Homo sapiens: one gene and its partner. The protein of the gene in region 1 interacts with the protein of each later gene in a biochemical or structural test. Each region holds a gene or a part of one and is shown on either strand. Other genes may lie near its edges.

The links.
Region 2: the proteins of KIDINS220 (region 1) and SEPTIN5 form a complex in vitro, tested with the Homo sapiens proteins (one study listed by BioGRID).

Annotation. Positions count from the first base shown.
Region 1 is NC_000002.12:8,784,341-8,793,067, reverse strand, and holds part of KIDINS220 (kinase D-interacting substrate of 220 kDa), read left to right. Parts: intron 1-1,843; coding exon 1,844-2,008; intron 2,009-3,008; coding exon 3,009-3,188; intron 3,189-4,255; coding exon 4,256-4,421; intron 4,422-6,710; coding exon 6,711-6,862; intron 6,863-7,037; coding exon 7,038-7,327; intron 7,328-8,727. UniProt on the Homo sapiens protein: Promotes a prolonged MAP-kinase signaling by neurotrophins through activation of a Rap1-dependent mechanism. Provides a docking site for the CRKL-C3G complex, resulting in Rap1-dependent sustained ERK activation.
Region 2 is NC_000022.11:19,709,173-19,718,430, forward strand, and holds the start of SEPTIN5 (septin-5), read left to right. Parts: upstream 1-5,330; 5' UTR 5,331-5,416; coding exon 5,417-5,459; intron 5,460-5,524; exon of another isoform or gene 5,525-5,608; coding exon 5,609-5,619; exon of another isoform or gene 5,620-5,623; intron 5,624-8,047; exon of another isoform or gene 8,048-9,258. UniProt on the Homo sapiens protein: Filament-forming cytoskeletal GTPase. May play a role in cytokinesis. May play a role in platelet secretion.

The DNA of each region.
Region 1 (8,727 bases):
ACCCTCCAGGCTTTTCTTTATGCTTATAAAAATGTTACATACTATGTATATAGTTTTAAAAAATAAAAATTGAGTTATAATATGTTACAAAAGCTTAAAGTGTCATATTTTAATTATTGCATAATTTTTCGTACATTGAGTTCGCTATTGGTGAATATTTAGTTTGTTTTGCTAACAACTAGTGCTGCAGTGAACACCTTTGTACGTATATCCATTGACTCTTATTTTTAGGATTTTTTTTCTTTCTTTTGAAAATATTATTAGAGATTCAGGGGGTACAATTAGGATTATTTTCTTAGGGTAAATTCCCAGAAGTAGAATTGCCAAGTCAGTGGATGCCCATAGTTTTGATAGACTTTCCAAAATGGTTGTAAAAATTTCTTCTCCCTCTGGCAGTGTAAGATACCACAATTCCCCACAAGCTTGCTAGCACTGGGTATTTCCAGCCTCTTACTCTTTGCTAATCAGATAAATAAGAAAAGAAAATCTCATTTCAATTTGTGTTTTAAAATTATTAGTGAAATTGAGATCTTGTAATATATTCATAGGCTATTGCTTCTCAGCCTTTTGGCTTAGATAATGTGTAATATGTTCATAGGCTATTTGTATTCTTGCCAGTTTCCTTTTTGTATCCTTTGCCCACTTTTTAGTTTTTAATATTTTAAAAAAATTGATGTAAGAGTCTTTCTGTGTTATGGATATTGATCCTGGGTCTATCCCATGTGCTGCATTCCTCTCCCCCGGCATACTCTTGGTTGATGGTCATGGATTTTTATTCCTCATTCAAAAGTTTTACATTTTTGTAGTTTATTCATTAGTCTTTTCCTGCAGTTCTGGCCTTAGTATTACATTGCAAAAGAAAGGCCTTTTTAAACAAAGATTTTTAAAGTTTTTCCTATATTTCCTTCTAGTACTTCTATGGTTTTACTTTTTTCTACTTAATTTTTTAATGTTTCAGAAAATTTTGTTGAGGCTATGAGGTATATAGCATTTTAATTTAATTTTTTCATGAATGATTAAACTTTCCCAACACCACTTACTAATTCATCCTTTCCTGCCTTATTTGAAATGCCACTTATGTTAATATCCTATATGAGTTCCAGAATGTTCAAATTATTGTTTTACATTTTTATTCTTCTCCAGTGGCAACTACCCTTCAGTAGTCTTTAATTTTTTTTTCTATTCTTACACATTCTTCTTTCCTTTCAATTAAAACAAAATTCTCATGGATTTTAATTAGAACTGCCTTAAAGTGATAGAATAATTTGGGAGAATTGCTGAACCTTTCTTCCTGGAATCATAAAATGTTTCTTTTTCTATTATTATCTATTATGTTCTTCAGTAACATTTTACAACTTTCTTTGTATAGGTATTACACGTACTAAATTTATTTTATATGCTTATTTGTGTTAATCATATTTTATCGATTCTAAAATGCACAATGTTCCCATAATTTAACATCTCTGAAATTGGAATGTGTCTTGTAAGTGATGGACAAGAAAGCATGATGTCACAATTTGGCAACATTTTGTTCTTTCTTAGTTATACATAAAAATGATGTATCATATAATTAATAAGTATCAAGTTCTATGAAATATGATAGTAATTTAAGAATATCTGAAACTTTTTATGAAATACGATAGTAATTTAAGAATCTCTGAATTTTAAATCAGGTAGCCTTCCAAGTCAGAATAGGCTCAGAGACTCCCTGAAACTGTCCCTACATGGGTATAAACATTTGAAATAATTTTTTTCTCTCTAATCAAGGAAACAATGAAAATAGTGTTCATTTCTAATAGTAATGCCACTGTTTAATGTAAGATATGATGTGTTTTAATTACAGGACACTTGTCTCCTACTGAAACAGACGGTGACATGCTTGGATATGATTTATATAGCAGTGCCCTGGCAGATATTCTCAGTGAGCCTACCATGCAGCCACCCATTTGTGTGGGGTTATATGCACAGTGGGGAAGTGGGAAATCTTTCTTACTCAAGAAACTAGAAGGTAAAGGGCTTGCTTGTACAAAGTCTGTATATATAAAGCAAGGTTTTCTCTGGGGATTTTTCTGAAATAAAGAGGAAGACCACTTTCTGTATAAGCATGTGTGTTATGTGGTTTACTGAGATGAACTCCCCTCTGGTTGGTCCTTCACACGGTCATTTGAGTTCTCTTTCTAAAGCAGATCCAATTGTGTGATAACCCCACATAAAACCCTTGCTGGCAAGTTTTTTTCGGGCCCTTCACAGACTTGTCAATTTGCATGGTCCCACCTGCCAGCACCACCTCTGGCATGTGCCCCAGCTTCAGTCACAGAGGACTGTTTGCTCTTGCAAGAACAGACCAGATGTGTTTCCCAGGTTGCTCCCTCTATTAGCAGCTCCTTAGTGGCCTCACTACCACCCACCCAACATGCATGCCTTTTGCTTGGCAAAAGCTTACTTATTCTTCAAGGATAGGTTTCAGTATTGCCTATAAAATTTTCCCCAAGTTTTGTACAAAGAATTACTTGTGTGGGACTCCATTGGGCTCAACATGCACCTTTAAGAACAGTATTCTCAAATGTGATTGGAGGGAGAAGGGATGAGAAGGATCACAGTGGAATGGTGGTGATATGTAGTTTGAAGATATAGGGTATAGTTTTTATTTTTGCATGTGGAAACAATATGCATATGCATAATATTTGTTGTTTGTGTTAATGCAAACCACAAAAAACAAATCTCAAGAAAATCTTGACAGATGGGAGTATATGAGAAGGGGTTTTGTACATCCTCCACGTGAAGCAGGAGAGGGTGGCGAGTCAGGCCTAGCTGTGGTCCTGGGGGTGAGATGTTCATCTTTGGCAAGAGAACACTGGGTAAAATGGTTAAGTGGCAGTATTCCATCTAGGGACCTACTAAGTGTCCAATAAATGTTTACATTGAAAATGTGAAAACTGCATATTGAGTTAAAAGTTGTATTTCTTAAACAAAACAGGAATAAGGTTTCGTATTAAATTCTCTTTCAGACGAAATGAAAACCTTCGCCGGACAACAGATTGAGCCTCTCTTTCAGTTCTCATGGCTCATAGTGTTTCTTACCCTGCTACTTTGTGGAGGGCTTGGTTTATTGTTTGCCTTCACGGTCCACCCAAATCTTGGAATAGCAGTGTCACTGAGCTTCTTGGCTCTCTTATATATATTCTTTAGTAAGTCTTTGCTTTTTATCTTTTTCAAAAATGGAGAAAACGTTAAGATTCATAGATAAAGAAAAAACATTTTCTTTATCTGTCTTTTAAAACCTGTATGTGATTTTCATAATTGGGTGAGAAAATTGATCTTTTTGCTACTCCATAAATTTTCCTAAAGGAACATTGCTCACAACTTGGCTGAAGTAGCTTATAAACTAATGTACTACTTGTTAATCTTGAAGCAAGAACCTATATTATTATACTTACTCTTTTTGTTAATTAATGATTTATATTTAAATCTTTTTCTGGGCCGGGTGCGGTGGCTCTCACGCCTGTAATCCCAGCACTTTGGGAGCCCAAGGCGGGCAGATCGTAAGGTCAGGAGATCGAGACCATCCTGGCTGACATGGTGAAACCCCGTCTCTACTAAATATACAAAAAAATTAGCCGGGCAAGATGGCGGGCGCCTGTAGTCCCAGCTACTCGGGAGGCTGAGGCAGGAGAATGGCGTGAACCTGGGAGGGGGAGGTTGCAGTGAGCCGAGATGGCGCCACTGCTCTCCAGCCTGGGCAACAGAGCGAGACTCCATCTCAAAAAAAAAAAAAAAAAAAAAATTCTTTTTCTGAAAAGAAGGCTTCAAAGCCATCATTGGTATGCTCTTGAGCATTTTGACCATGTCTGTACTTTTAATTTTATCTAAAAGCAAAATAAAAAAAATATAATATAATCCCTATTCTTGGGGGTGTCTTCAGTTGCAAGAAAGGAAATAGATTTACTGTTAGAGGAACTGATAACCAACTTCACCAGTTGCGAATAGTGATAAACCCAAGATGATTTGCATTTGAATCTGAACTGCAGTTATGTTTCTGTTTAAGGCATGTTTTAGTCAGTTTACTTTTCATTTTTCATATCTTCTGTATCTTAGGGGAGGTTAATGGAATTCTTTGAGGAGTAGTTAGGAAATAGTATGGGACCATAGGAAGCTATGTAAGCTTAGCTCTCATTACTTGATACTTGATCTTTGGAGAAAAGATCTGCTTGACTAGTGACTGCTTTGGATAACTTTTTTAAACTGTGAATTTCAGTTGTCATTTACTTTGGTGGACGAAGAGAAGGAGAGAGTTGGAATTGGGCCTGGGTCCTCAGCACTAGATTGGCAAGACATATTGGATATTTGGAACTCCTCCTTAAATTGATGTTTGTGAATCCACCTGAGTTGCCAGAGCAGACTACTAAAGCTTTACCTGTGAGGTGAGTTGTACCATTTGACAGAAGAAATCTTCAATGAGATTCAGAAAAAAATATTTTTCACTTCGGAAAGTTTATAGGAGCCGGGTGTGGTGGCTCACGCTTGTAATCCCAGCACTTTGGGAGGCCAAGGTGGGCAGATCACCTGAGGTCAGGAGTTCGAGACCAGCCTGGCCAACATGGTGAAACCCCATCTCTACTAAAAATACAAAATTAGCGGGGGCGTCATGGCGCATGCCTGTAGTCCTAGCTACTTGGAAGGATGAAGCAGGAGAATCGCTTGAACCTGGGAGGCAGAGGTTGCAGTGAGCCAGGATCGCGCCATTGCACTCCAGCCTGGGCGACAAGAACGAAACTCTGTCTCAAAAAAAAAAAAAAGTTTATAGAATATAATTTCTCAATGTATGTTCCAAAAAACATTGGAACCTTTTACATACAGAAATAAAAACATGCCCTGGTCAAATACCGTGGGAAACACTTCAGATTATATATCCCTCCTGTACGTTAAAGGATCAGAGGCACCTTTCCATAAAGAAACCTGTTTAACTTTTATTTACCAAATTTTATTTAAGCATAAACCTTTTCTCCCTGTTATGTCACCTGTTACCATCTTTTGGAACACACTTTGAAGAGAGCACTGGATGGAGGAGGGGTCCAGCCACTGGCCTTGGTCCCCAGAGAGCTTCCCGCTGGAGACCTGGCCCTTCCTTATGTGAGCGGTTAACCTGGGGAAACCCAGCTCCCCTCTCTGAGCTGTGCTTTTCTCAGCTCAGGAAATATATTCACATGTCTGTCTAAAATTATTATTCATATTAAGTAGGAAATTTATGAGAAAAAAGAAAAGATGAAAAATGTTTAAGTCCAGGAATAAAGGAAAGGTAGAGGGCTCCAGAGGACAGTGAAATGAAAAAAAAAAAAAGCTAGAAAGTTAAAAGCAAAAGAAATTCAATGGAAGTAAGCAATGTAAGAATTTAAAATGTATTAAGCCAGATGTGGTGGCTCACACCTGTAATCCCAGCACTGTGGGAGGCCAAAGTGGTCAATTGCTTGAGCTCAGGAGTTCAAAACAAGCCTGGGTAAAGGCAAAACCCCATCTCTACAAAAAATAGAAAAATTAGCTGGGTGTGGTGGTGCGTGCCTGTAGTTCTAGCTGCTTGGGAGGCTGAAGTGGGAGGACTGCTTAAGCTTCGGGGGTTGAGGGTACAGTGAGCCAAGATCACGCCACCGCACTGCAGCCTAGGTGACAAAGTGAGACCCTGCTCAAAAAAAAAAAGCATTAAAAGATGAAAATTTTTTAGTTATAAGAAAAAATAAGTGTAATTTAAGATGAAAATAAATAAGCCAAACCAGGTAAAATATTAAAACTGAGTATAAGAGAAAAATAAAGGTAAAAACTTTTAAGTAACTAGCATAGAGAATTAAGTATTAAGAAAAGGATTTAAAAGTGAAAAAGTTAAAAGGAAAACAGAATAAAATAATTGGGGGAATATTTTTACAGAAAATAAGGAAACCAGTCTAAATTAATGAGGTGGTATTTTTTTTTTTCAGTTAGAACAATTAAAGTAGCATCGTCAAGACCACACAGTATATTACAGATTGTATTCTGAGAGCAATGCTTATCTACTGGACTGAGATGAGAGTTTAATTTAGAGATGGAAGGGAGAAAGGAACTAACAGAAATAATAATGATTCAGAGACTCTGAATACAAATAATTCACTTAATTTTGAAGATCAATTGTGAAGAGAATATTTTACAACTATTTCTCAATCCCTGGTAGACGTGGAAGCTATAAATAAAATAAGCCATGCTAAAACTTGAGTTTTTAAATGGTATTACTGGGCTTGAAATTCTTTAATGACTGTAATTAATATTTTTTCAGGGTTAGAGTCTCTTTCGTTGGTGTTAGAAAACTTTCTTGTGCAACTCTTGGTGGCCACATCATGACACGTGTGTCACCTTTTAACCACTATGTCGTGAGATCTGTTGGGGTGTCTTGATACTCCACATCTAAGTTCTGGCGTAACTTTCCCCCGCCTGTCCTTAGTCAGAATTACTTTATATGGCCCTGCACATTTCACTTTTGTTACTGTTTTTTCCTAAGAAAAGTATGTAAGATTTTAGAAGTGGAAGCTACCTAATTACAAATTCTTTTCCCTCCTTGGAATTTAAAAAACAATATTTTGAAAGAGACAAAAAGAAAATAAAGGGTAAGTGATGCAAAGATGACATACATTGAAGTTATTTGTTACTTTAGATAATAAAGTAATGTTTGATTTGTTCTTTTCTTCAAGGTTTTTGTTTACAGATTACAATAGACTGTCCAGTGTAGGTGGAGAAACTTCTCTGGCTGAAATGATTGCAACCCTCTCGGATGCTTGTGAAAGAGAGTTTGGCTTTTTGGCAACCAGGCTTTTTCGAGTATTCAAGACTGAAGATACTCAGGGTAGGATTTCCTTCCTTCCTTCTTTGTGTGTAAGGGATGGGGGTGGGATAGATGTTCAGTTTATTTTCATGAAAACACACCTTGAACATTAGACTCATCAGGTATTGTGACTATAATGTTAGGATTTTCTAGATCCTTGATATGTTAATTATTAAAACCATTTGTTGCATTACAGGTAAAAAGAAATGGAAAAAAACATGTTGTCTCCCATCTTTTGTCATCTTCCTTTTTATCATTGGCTGCATTATATCTGGAATTACTCTTCTGGCTATATTTAGAGTTGACCCAAAGCATCTGACTGTAAATGCTGTCCTCATATCAATCGCATCTGTAGTGGGATTGGCCTTTGTGTTGAACTGTCGTACATGGTGGCAAGTGCTGGACTCGCTCCTGAATTCCCAAAGAAAACGCCTCCATAATGCAGCCTCCAAACTGCACAAATTGAAAAGTGAAGGATTCATGAAAGTAAGCACTCATTGGTTATTAGAAAAAATTGTAATGCGAATATGTTGCCACTGCCATGCTCATTTGGGCTTTAGGAAGTACACTCTCTAAATGTTAAAGTGTTGCATTTATTTTAGTTTAATTTGTTCATTCATTCATTCGTTCATTCAAGACTATAATTTAAGGTAGTTTTAAGTTCACGGTAAAATTTAGAGGGAAGTGCAAAGATATCCCATATACCCACTTCCCCCACACATACACAGCCTCCCCAATTGGCACGATTACCCACCAGAGCAGTACATTTGTTACAATTGATGAACTTAGGCTGACACATCATAATCACCCAGCATCCATAGTTTACAGTAGGGTTCACTCTTGGTGTGGTACATTCTGTGGGCTTGGACAAATGTATAACATGTATCCACCATTATAGTCTTATACAGAGTAGATTTATTGCCCTCAAAATCTTCTGTGCTTCACCTCTTCACACCTGTTCACCCCTCCCTCCACCCTCCTCCCTAACCCCTGGCTACCATTTCTTTTTACTATCGCCATAGTTTTGCCCTTTCCAGAATGTCATATAGTTGAATCATACATGTGTAGTCTTTTCAGATTGGCTTCTTTCACGTAGTCATATGCATTTAAGTGCCCTTCATGTCTTTTCATGACCTGCTAGCTCATTTCTTTTTAGCATGGCTAATGTGCCATTGTCTGGATATATCACAGTTCATTTATACATTTATCTACTGAAGGACATCTTTATTGCTTCCAAGTTTTGGCAAGTATGAATAAAGCTGCTATAAACTTTTGTGGACAGGCTTTTGTGTGAACATAAAGGATTTGAAAACTCCTTTGGGTAAATACCAAGGAGTGTGATTGCTAGATTGTATGATGTTTCGTTTTGTTAGAAACAACCAGACTGTTCTGAGGTGGCTATTTTGCATTCCCACCAGAAATGAATGAGGCTCCTGTTGCTCCACATCACATCCTCACCAGCATTTGGTATTATTGGTGTTCTGGATTTTGGCCATTCTGTTAGGTGTGCAGTGGTATCTTATTGTTTGAATTTGCATTTCCCTGATTACACATGTTGTGGAGCATATTTTCATGTGCTTATTTGCTATCTGTATGTCTTCTTTGGTGAATTGGCTGTGAAGGTCTTGGCTTATTTTTCAGTCAGGTTGTTCATTTTCTTATTGTTGAGTTTTAAGAGTTCTTTGTGTATTTTGGCTAATGGTCCTTTATCAGATAAGCTTTTTGCAAATATTTTGCTCCATTCTTTTGGTTGCTTTTCATTCTCTTGACAGTGTCTTTTGCAGAGCAGACATTTTTGATGAAGTCTAGCTTACTAATTCTTTCTTTCATGGATCTTGCTTTTAGTGTCCTATCTAAAAAGTTAACACCAAACCTACGGTCACCTA
Region 2 (9,258 bases), on another chromosome or scaffold:
TCGCAAGCGCTTGCTCCCGTGGGATGTTTGTCATGCTTCCATGCATGACACAGGAGAATATCAACATTGGTGCCATTTCACATCTCTTCATTCATCTGCTATTCTTCCACCTTCAGCTTCTCATAAAATCACAGAACTGCAGTGAGGACCTCTGCCTGCCGGGACAGCCTGGGGATGGTCCCGTGCAGCCCCCTCAGGCAGCATCCCTGTGGAGGGTTCCCCTCCGCCCCCTACCGTGGGGAGCTCTTCCCAGCTGAGTCACACTGCACGCCTGGTCCCTACCCTGGGCTGCTCTCTGTGTTATCTTGCAGGCGCCGTCCCAGATCCTTCAGGGGACTCTGAAGGCCCATCAGATGTGGCTGCAGACCCACCTCCCTCAGACCCTCAGCTCTGGATCCAGGCTGGCTCCCTGCCGTGGAGCACAGGCGCCCTTTGTAGCACTCACTCCAGCTGCCCAGGGAATCGGGGACTTGGTGTGGACTGAGACTCAGCCCCCTTGAAGCCCTATTCTGTCCACCGCTGCAAGACATAGGCGGCTTTAAGCAGGACCAGGCCGCACCCTCCAGGCAGAGACAGCTGCTGTGGGTTCTGTGCTCTTCTAATGGGCATGTCTTCCCATCGGTGATGAGGACTGATTTGTGCAGTGACCCCCTTACATTTTTCTGAAAAGGAGATCAAGGAAAACATTCTTCAGTAGAATCCTCACTGTGCACACACTTCCCCTTGTGCTCGGTGACAGCCACTGCCTTTGGGAGCAGGGAGGACGCCCCAGAACCTCCTGGTCTCCGCACACCCCCCTGAGCTGGGCTGAGCACACAAGCACCCCTCTGCAGACAGTAGAGGTTTTGGGATTCAGAATATGCAGTCTGAAGCTCCCCAGAGCCTGGCTCTTTAGTCAGGCCCTCCTTGCCCGCCCTGTGAATCCACGCCTAGGAGCCTGTGCCCCCACCCAGCAGGAGCTGATGCTGCTGAGCTTCCCAGGTGCCAGACAGGGGCTGAGTGTGGGGGCCAGGGAGCCAGTCGGGAGTCTGCTGCCTGGCAGGCCATGTCCTGCAGAAGAGAGGCCAGCATAGGGCACGGTGGGCCTGGAGGGGCTGGAGACAGTGCTGCTGGGTCGGCAGAGCTAGAGAAGGGCAGCCCAGGCAGGGGGCACACTAGTGCCAAGGTGCAGGGGCATGAAGCTGCAGGTCACACGGCCTCCCTCGGAGCCCCCAGGTACTGGGGGTGGGTTCAAATCTCACAGGGTTGGCGGGCGAGGGCTTCAGGAACAGCAGGGACAGGAGCATGAGAGCAGTAGAAAAATGCAGGGGTCAGGAGGATCATCTGGGACCCACCAGGTTGCTGGTGAATTCAGGGGATAGAAGGGATGTGAGCTCAGGCCTCGAGCAGCTGCCTGATTGGGACAGCCCCTGGCTGGGCCGCGACCAGGTCACAGCACTTTGCAGGAGTCAGGCCTGGGCTCCACGGTCGTGGGTTCTAGTCTCGGCTGTTTAGTCTCAAGCAGATCTCCACCGCGCCCTGACCTCCACTTCCTGCGTCTACTCAGGGTGAAAAAACACCCCATTCCCAGCACAGGTCAGGGTTGCCCGAGTTGATCATGCAGGTAGGCCTGTGGGGCTCTCAGGTGCCTGACACCCTGCATGCATCTTGGCCTCTTCCCTCATCCTCAGCCTCAGATGGACTGAGCCATCTGGAACCTGTCAGTGGTGGCCTCAGCCCTAACTGCAGATGACAGGCTTGGGAGTGTGGCGACATGTGTCACCTGGAGCAAACTGCTCCCCCTCTGAAGCCTGTCACCCACAAGACCTGCTCCCAAGGGCCAATGGCAGGTGCCTTATTCTTTCGTCGCCATCACCGTTGCCACCTCCCCACCAGCTCCATCCTTCTCCGGGTCCCAGCCCTGGGGCGCTCACTCCCCTGTGTGCTGAGGGAGGCCCAGCATGGTTCAAATGCAGCCTCTGGAGAATTTCTTCACTAAGAGGCTTTTTCTGAAAAGAGTCAAGCTATTTGTAGCCCAAGTTGGTTGAACAGATTTTTCTTGGTGTAGCTTATTTTTTTATTCATTAACTTCTTTTCCTTATGAATTAAAAAATAGCATTTTTTTTTCCACAAAGGAGTGCTTTATTTACTTCTTTTTGTACCACAGCCAGCGCTTCCTCTGCCTGCTGGGGAAAGTGGATGCACACACCCACTTTGGCAGGCAGTTTTCTTTCAAGCCATGGCATCTTGGAGAGGTAAGTGTGTGTGTTCAGACCACTGCCCTGTGGCTCCAGCCCCCCTGATATCAGCCACAGCCCCAAGGCTTGGGTGTTGTTTGTTTGTTTTTTCATTTTTTTTGAGACAAGGTCTCACTCTGTTGCCCAGGCTGGAGTGCAGTGGCACCATCACGGCTCACTGCATGCAGCCTCAAACTCCCAGGCTCAAGTGAGCCTCTGGCCTCAGCCTCCTGAGTAGCTGAGACTACAGACTCATGCCACCACAGCCAGTTTTTTTTTTTTAATTTTTAATTTTTATAGAAACGGGGTCTCACATTCTTGCCCAGACTGGTCTCAAACTCTTGGCCTCAAGTCATCCTCCCACCTTGGCCACCGAAAGTGCTACAATGATAGGCGTGAGCCACCAGGCCTGCCTGGTTGGCTTTTTGGTGAACAGGAGCATAATAAGGGTTTCACTGGGCTGTCAGCCTCCATTGTGGTGGCCAGTATCTCAAAGCCTCACCTGGCAGAACTGGAGACGCGTCTGCTGACCGATGCCCTCATGACCCATTTTCCTGACTTCAGAAATGTCCCATGCAGACACTATGCCATCCAGCAGGCCTCCCAGCTAGACAGGGTGCAGCCTCGATGTGTCTGTGGAGGGACTCGGGCTGTCCCTGCACTCACAGTCATGGTGACCAAAGTCCCAGAGTAAGGGAGCAGATGCCGCTTCCCCCTTCCAGCCCAGGCATTTTACATGAGGCGCTGACCCAGGACCACCCTTGACTTCACTCTTCCAAGGAGTGGCTCCCAGTCCTATATATTCCATCAGCCTCCAGGCTGGCTGTCCCTTAAACACTGGTCTCCAATCTAACTGCATTTCTGTAAGTAATCTTTTGGGACAGACTTTTTTAAAAAAGATCATGTTTATGCCGTATTCCTCATCTTTCTTGTCTTCTATCTCCAGATTTGTTTTAAAACCTATTACTCCTGTATACATGTGCCTCCCACCCTTTGAGCTATGCCCTTGACCTGCTATGCACTTGTCTCAAGGCCAAGTTCAAACCCCCTAACCCAAGGCTGTCCAGAGCTGCCCTGCCACCTGAGCCATGGGGAGGGGCGCTGAGCTGGTGCCTTTCACAGGCTGCCTGCCTCCCCCTGGGCAGGGCTCCTGTCTCTCCTCCTTTGTCTCCACAAGCACAGGCTTGCATGGGTCAGCACGTGGTGAACAGCCAACCATCATTTTCCAATTCTTTCCAAAAAGTCCTGTCTATGCTCAGAAGTCCTGCCTGGCCCTTTGAGTGCCCCTACCCCCACACACACATTCTTTTTTTTTTTTTTTTTTTTTTTTTTTTGAGACGGAGTCTGGCTCTTTGGCTCAGGCTGGAGTGGAGTGCAGTGGTGCGATCTCGGCTCACTGCAACCTCCGCCTTCTGAGTTCAAGTGATTCTCCTGCCTCAGTCTCCTGAATAGCTGGGACTACAGGCATGTGCCACCATGCCTAGCTAATTTTTTGTATTTTTAATAGACGGGGTTTCACCGTGTTAGCCAGGATGGTCTTGATCTCCTGACCTCAACACACATTTCTTTATCGAAATTCCAAATTCTCCAAAGCTCAGAAACATAAAGGTTTTTCAAAACTCAGTGGCAAAGCTGGACCTGAACGATGCGCCATCACTTACTGTCTTTATTTCTTCCAGTTCACCTGAATACATATGTTTTGCCCCGAAAATATAAATGGGTCTGATTATGAGGAGCAGCCCCAGGTTCCAAAGAGGTGCCACATAATGTATGATGTATACAAAAAAGCCTGAGTTCCAAACACATCTTGGATGAGAGGTTGGGACTGTGGGGGATCCCTACACTGGTTAGAGTTCTAGACCCAGAGCAGGGTTATGGTCAACGGCGCTCTGGCCACAGAATGCAGCAGAGCAAGGACTGTGGAACAAAGACGCGGCTTACATGAATTTTTCACTTACCGTGCTGGGTGCTGGTGATTCAGAGATGGAAAGGCCCTAGCGACACCCCCCTCCACCCAGGGAGCCCACGGGCCAGCAGAGGGACCAAGGGGCACAGGACGGGTGGGGAGCAGAGGCGGATTCCCTGGCTGTGGAGGTACTGTCTATACGGGGTGCAGGAGACATCTCCATACAAGGGGGCCCTCACCTGGGGAGGTGGTGACCGCAAGCCTGACAGCCCCAAAGCCTTCAGAGATGCCGCCTGGGGACACTTTGGGAAAGTCCAGGCGGAGGACACCTGGGAATGTGATAGTGACACAAATGACCGGAGAGACTTGCTCTCAGTCACTGAGTCTGGCTGACTCACTGAAGATTAGGGCCTGAACTTCCCCCTCTGTAAATGGGGTGCAGGCCCTGGCCCTGCCTTCACAGTGCCCCTCGGTCCCCTACAAGCCTTCTCCGCAGGGTGGGATCGGGTCTGCCTGGAGCATCCCCACAGCCTATGGGTCAGCAGAGAAGCAGGCGCAGAGCTGGGGTGAGACGGTCAGGGCCGGTCCTGCCAGACACCTCAGATCACTCCTCTTCACAAATAATCCCATTTTACAGCCCAGGAAGAGAGAGGCCGGACCACTGCCCAAAAGCCTGTGGCCTACAGCCTGCCAGGTGCGTCTGCTCGCAGAGCAGGTCTGCGCAGCACCGAGCGGTCAGCAGGGGCAATGCTGGGCACTGGCCAGCCGCGCCAGGACCATCCCTGCTGACCTCGGCGGGGTGGGGCGGAGCGTGCAGGGTCTGGCCCGGAAAGCCAGGGCAGGCTTTAGAGAAGGGCCACCGGACGGATGGTCCGAGGACCGGCATGGACCCGGGTCCCAGCGAGGGCGGGGGGAGCGTAAGGCTGGGCCTGGGCTGCGGCACCGGGGAGGTGGCGGGGAGGAGGCCGGCAGGAACAGCCGTGCAGGGCGGGGGCGGCGCGGGTCTGGTCGGGTGACCCCGGGCGCGGCCAGGGCTGTAGGAGGCGAGGGCGTCGCCCCGAGGCCGTGGTCTCGGGTCCATGGTGGGGGACCTGGGTCCCCGCCCCCCCGGGCCGCCCTGGGTCGCGCGTGGGCGCGGCGGGCGCCGATTGGCTGCCGGGCGCGCGGGCGGAGCGGGCGGCGGCGGCGGCGGCGCGGAGGGGCCGCTCACCCCGCAGCCCGGCCTCGGCCTCCGCCGCTTGTCGTCGCGCCCCGCCCGCGAGCCCGCCCCGCACGTCCCCCGCCGGCGGCCACCATGAGCACAGGCCTGCGGTACAAGAGCAAGCTGGCGACCCCAGGTGAGCCCAGCGCCTGCCCGCGTGCCCGCGCGCGCCTTTGTCCCCGCCGCCCGCGCGCCTCTCACCGTGTCTCTCCGTCTCTCCCCCGCCCGCCGGCCCGGACCCGCTCGGAACCGGACCCGGACTCGACCCCGACCCCGACCCCGCAGAGGACAAGCAGGTACGTGCGCAGCGCCGCTCCCCCGCCGGGAGACCCGGCCGGCTGTCACCCATTGTGACACTAGCGCCTTGGGCGCCCAGGCGCGACCCCGCCCCCGCCGGCCCTCACCCAGCCCTGTCGCGATCACCGATTGTCAGCCGGGCAGTGCCGCCGCGCCTGGGGCTTCAGAGGAGAGGAGTGGGGGCCCTGGTCCCCGGACCCGCACAGCAGGGACCCTGCGCCCCTCCCCAGGATGGGGGGATGGGCAGAGTGTCCCCCTCCCACAGGGCCAGTGCCAGCATCTCCTGCTGACCTGGCCTGTAGGCCATGAGCTGGGGGTCCTGGGTGAGGCCATGGTCGTGGCAGGCCACGCTGGGGGAGGGGAGTCAGGCTCCATCAGCCAGCACAGTCCCTGAACAGCCCTACAGCAGAGGGCCTGTGGTCACCACCCACCTCCCCTGCACCTTCATGCCCCTTTCCCTCCCCATACACAAATTTGAGTGTTCAGGTCTGCAACAGGGACTCTTCCCCAGATTGGGAACCCCCAGGGTCTGGTCTGAGTCATTCTGGGTGCCCAGATGGGTCCTGGGACCCTGTGGGTACAAATAGGCTTGTGGCTTCTCAAAAGGGTTGGCCCCACCCTCCAGGAAAGCAAGACTGGACAGGAGGCTGGTCTAGGCACCTGGGTGAAACCCAGCCGAGCTCAGGGTTAAACAATGCTGTGAGGCCCCTGGGGTGGGGCGGGGGCTGACAACCAGGTGGGCTGGGGGGGCTGGGGAAAGCCTGCTGGTGTCCTCTCTGGCTTGAGCTCAGCCATCTTTGGAGGAAAAAAGAAGAGCCCAATTCTGGCACCAGGGTGGCACTGGCAGCCCCCATCAGGGATGGAGTTTCTCAGGAGCCATGGATGCTGAGTGGAACTCCAGAGTCCTGGCCCAGGGTGCAGCAGGCAGGGCAGGAGGGCGGGCAGGGGGGCCAGGAGCTGGGGGAGTCACTGGCTGACCAGTGCCATTCTCCTGGAAGGGACACACCCCACCCAGAGGTGGATGAGGCTCTCTGGGAGGGGCCCCTTGGGGAGCCAGGCTGGGAGCTGCCTCCCCATCACAGCAGGTCAGACAAAGCCTGAGATGCAGGGACACATGCGTCAGGCTACTGTTTGAGGGAAATGGAAGGAACTGAGGCTGGGAAAGCCAGGAGGCCAGGCCCCTGAGGCTTCTCCTGTGCCTGCAGGTGTCCCCAGCTTGACCCAAGGGCACTCTGAGACCCTGGGCTCCAGCCACTGCTGTTGGGTGCAGCCAGGTTCTCTTGCCCATTACTGCAGGGTGGGGACCCCCTCCTGCTGAGGTGCCCATCGTTTGAGGTCAACCGGGAGTCCACCTCACCCCATCCCAGGCCTCCCAGGCCTCCAAGCCCAGAGGAAGAAGGCACTGTGTGGCCAAGGAAGGGAGCCCCGGAGCAGGAGCCAGGCCAGGTGTCTGGGTGACCAGTGGGTCTGGGGGAGCTGGAAGCACATGGCAGCTTCCCTGCTACCACCGTTGCTGAGCCTCAGCCTGTCCAAGCATTCTTTTTGCTCTTTGAAAGGGGGCTGTAGAGGCATTGGGGGAGTTCCGTCACTACGCTCTGTGCCCCCACCTCCTCACAGGCAGCACCGGTGATCTCTTGGCCCTGGCTGCTGCTCCCAGAGCTGACTCGGGTGATTCTAAGAATGGAAGTGCCAGAGAGGCTCAGGCATTGGGAGGAGATGGGCGCAGCTGTGTCATATGGCTCAGGAAGCCCTGGGAGTATCTTTTGTCACTTGGGGACCAGAGAAAGGGGGTGGCAGGTACGGCCCCTTCCTTGAGGCTCCCCCAGGGAATCCACAGGCCCTGACTGGGCCCCAGTGGGTGGCAGGGCAGGTGGGTTGAACGCTGAGAGTGAGATTCTTGCCCTCCTGACCTGGGCCTCCCCAGAGGCTGTGCCTTACCAATGGGGAAACTGAGGCAGGCAGTCTGAGAGCCACACACTCTGTTAGACACCTCCTAGCCTGAGGCCTAGGCCCAGGGCTGTCTGTCTTCCTGGAGATGCCCTGGGCCTGAGATGCCAGCCTGTCTGGGTGGGTGCTGGGCTTCGAGGTGTGGACCCTCAGTTGGAAACTGGGTGGGACTCAGCCTAGAGGCTTCCTGCAGGTCAGGGCCATGGAAGGCTGGGGCCAGTGAGGAGGCTTTCTGGCAGCAAGGACTGAGGGATGCACTGGTAGAGCTGGGGGGCCTGGAGCTGCCCCCTTTCCCTGGGATGAAAGGCTCTCCTGTTCCCAGCTGTGGGCCTGCCCCTCCTCCCCAGGTGCCAGTGGTCCAGGCCCCACAACAGGACCAGGGCCTGGACAGGAAGTGGAGGAGGTCTCTCAGCCAGGAGAGCCTAAGGGAGGGCTGGTGGCGGGTGGGGTGGGGTGGGGTTGGGGCCTCCAGCTTCTAATGTTCTAATGTGCAGGGGCTTGGCCTGACCAGTCCTACCCTGGAACCTTTCCAGGCCCCATGTCCTGCTCCGCTGGGCTTGCCTGTTGGGATTCTACTGGGGTCATGGAGGTGGGTGGCCCACAGAGCGGAGCTCGGGAGACCCCCGCAGTCCCTGGAGTAGCCACATGGGAGGGAGGCCCGGCTGGCAGGAGCTCCCAGTCCCTCCAATCCTGTGGGTCAGAGCTGGTGAGGATGCTCAGAGGGCAAGGGAATGTCCACAGAAGCACGTGGGAGATGGGTCCCATCCCACCCCCACCCCTGTCTCTGAGGGCAGGGCCACCTGAGGGCTGCAGGGCAGCGCATGGGTGGCCGGCGTTTATTCAGCAGGCTGGCGGGGGCTTCCAAGTTTTGCAGGGACCTCCAGTACTCCGGCAGCCTGCACCCTTCCTTTCCCTTCCCTTCCCTTCTGTCCACCCTAAGCCTCCTAGGGGACAGGCAGGCTGGACTTCAGAAAAGGTGGGCTCTGCCCTCCTCCGGTCCCCCGAATGTCTTGGGAAAGAGTCCACCAAACACACATGCACACACCCGCGCACACGCACATACCCAATGCATGCACACACGTACACACACACGCATACACGCATGTATACACGCGCACACACGCAGGCATTACACACACACACATTACACACACACACCCGCACGGACGCGCACACACAAACGCGCGCACGCACGCACGCACGCACGGGGGAGGTCAGCCCCAAGCAGGGCTGGGGAGGGGTGCAGGGCGCGGCGTGTCTGTGGGCACTTGGGGCGTCGAGACGCCGCCGGGAGGTTTTCGGGCAAGTCTGCGAGAAGACGGCGGGCCCTGAACTGGGCGGGTACCCGCGCTGTTGCGCGTGGGTCCCGGGAGCGGCCTCCGGCGCCCTCTGGCGGGCGGAAGCCGCGCAGCACCTCTTGGGGGCGGGACGCGCGGTGGCTACCGACTCCCGGCCCGCCCCGGCCCGCGTGCAGGACCCGGTCGTCCCCTCCTGCTGTCCTGGAGCCCGGACTGAGGCCCCGGGGGCGCGGCAGGGCTCCCGGTCCACGCGAGCCATGGCCCGACCGCGCCTCGGCTCAGCCCTGCCCTCCGCAGCCGCTTTCGGGTGGCTCCGCCCGCGGCCCAATTTCCAGGCGACCGTTTCCCGGCGACGGCGGGCGGGGCCGTCTCTGCCGCCCCCCGCCGCGCGCT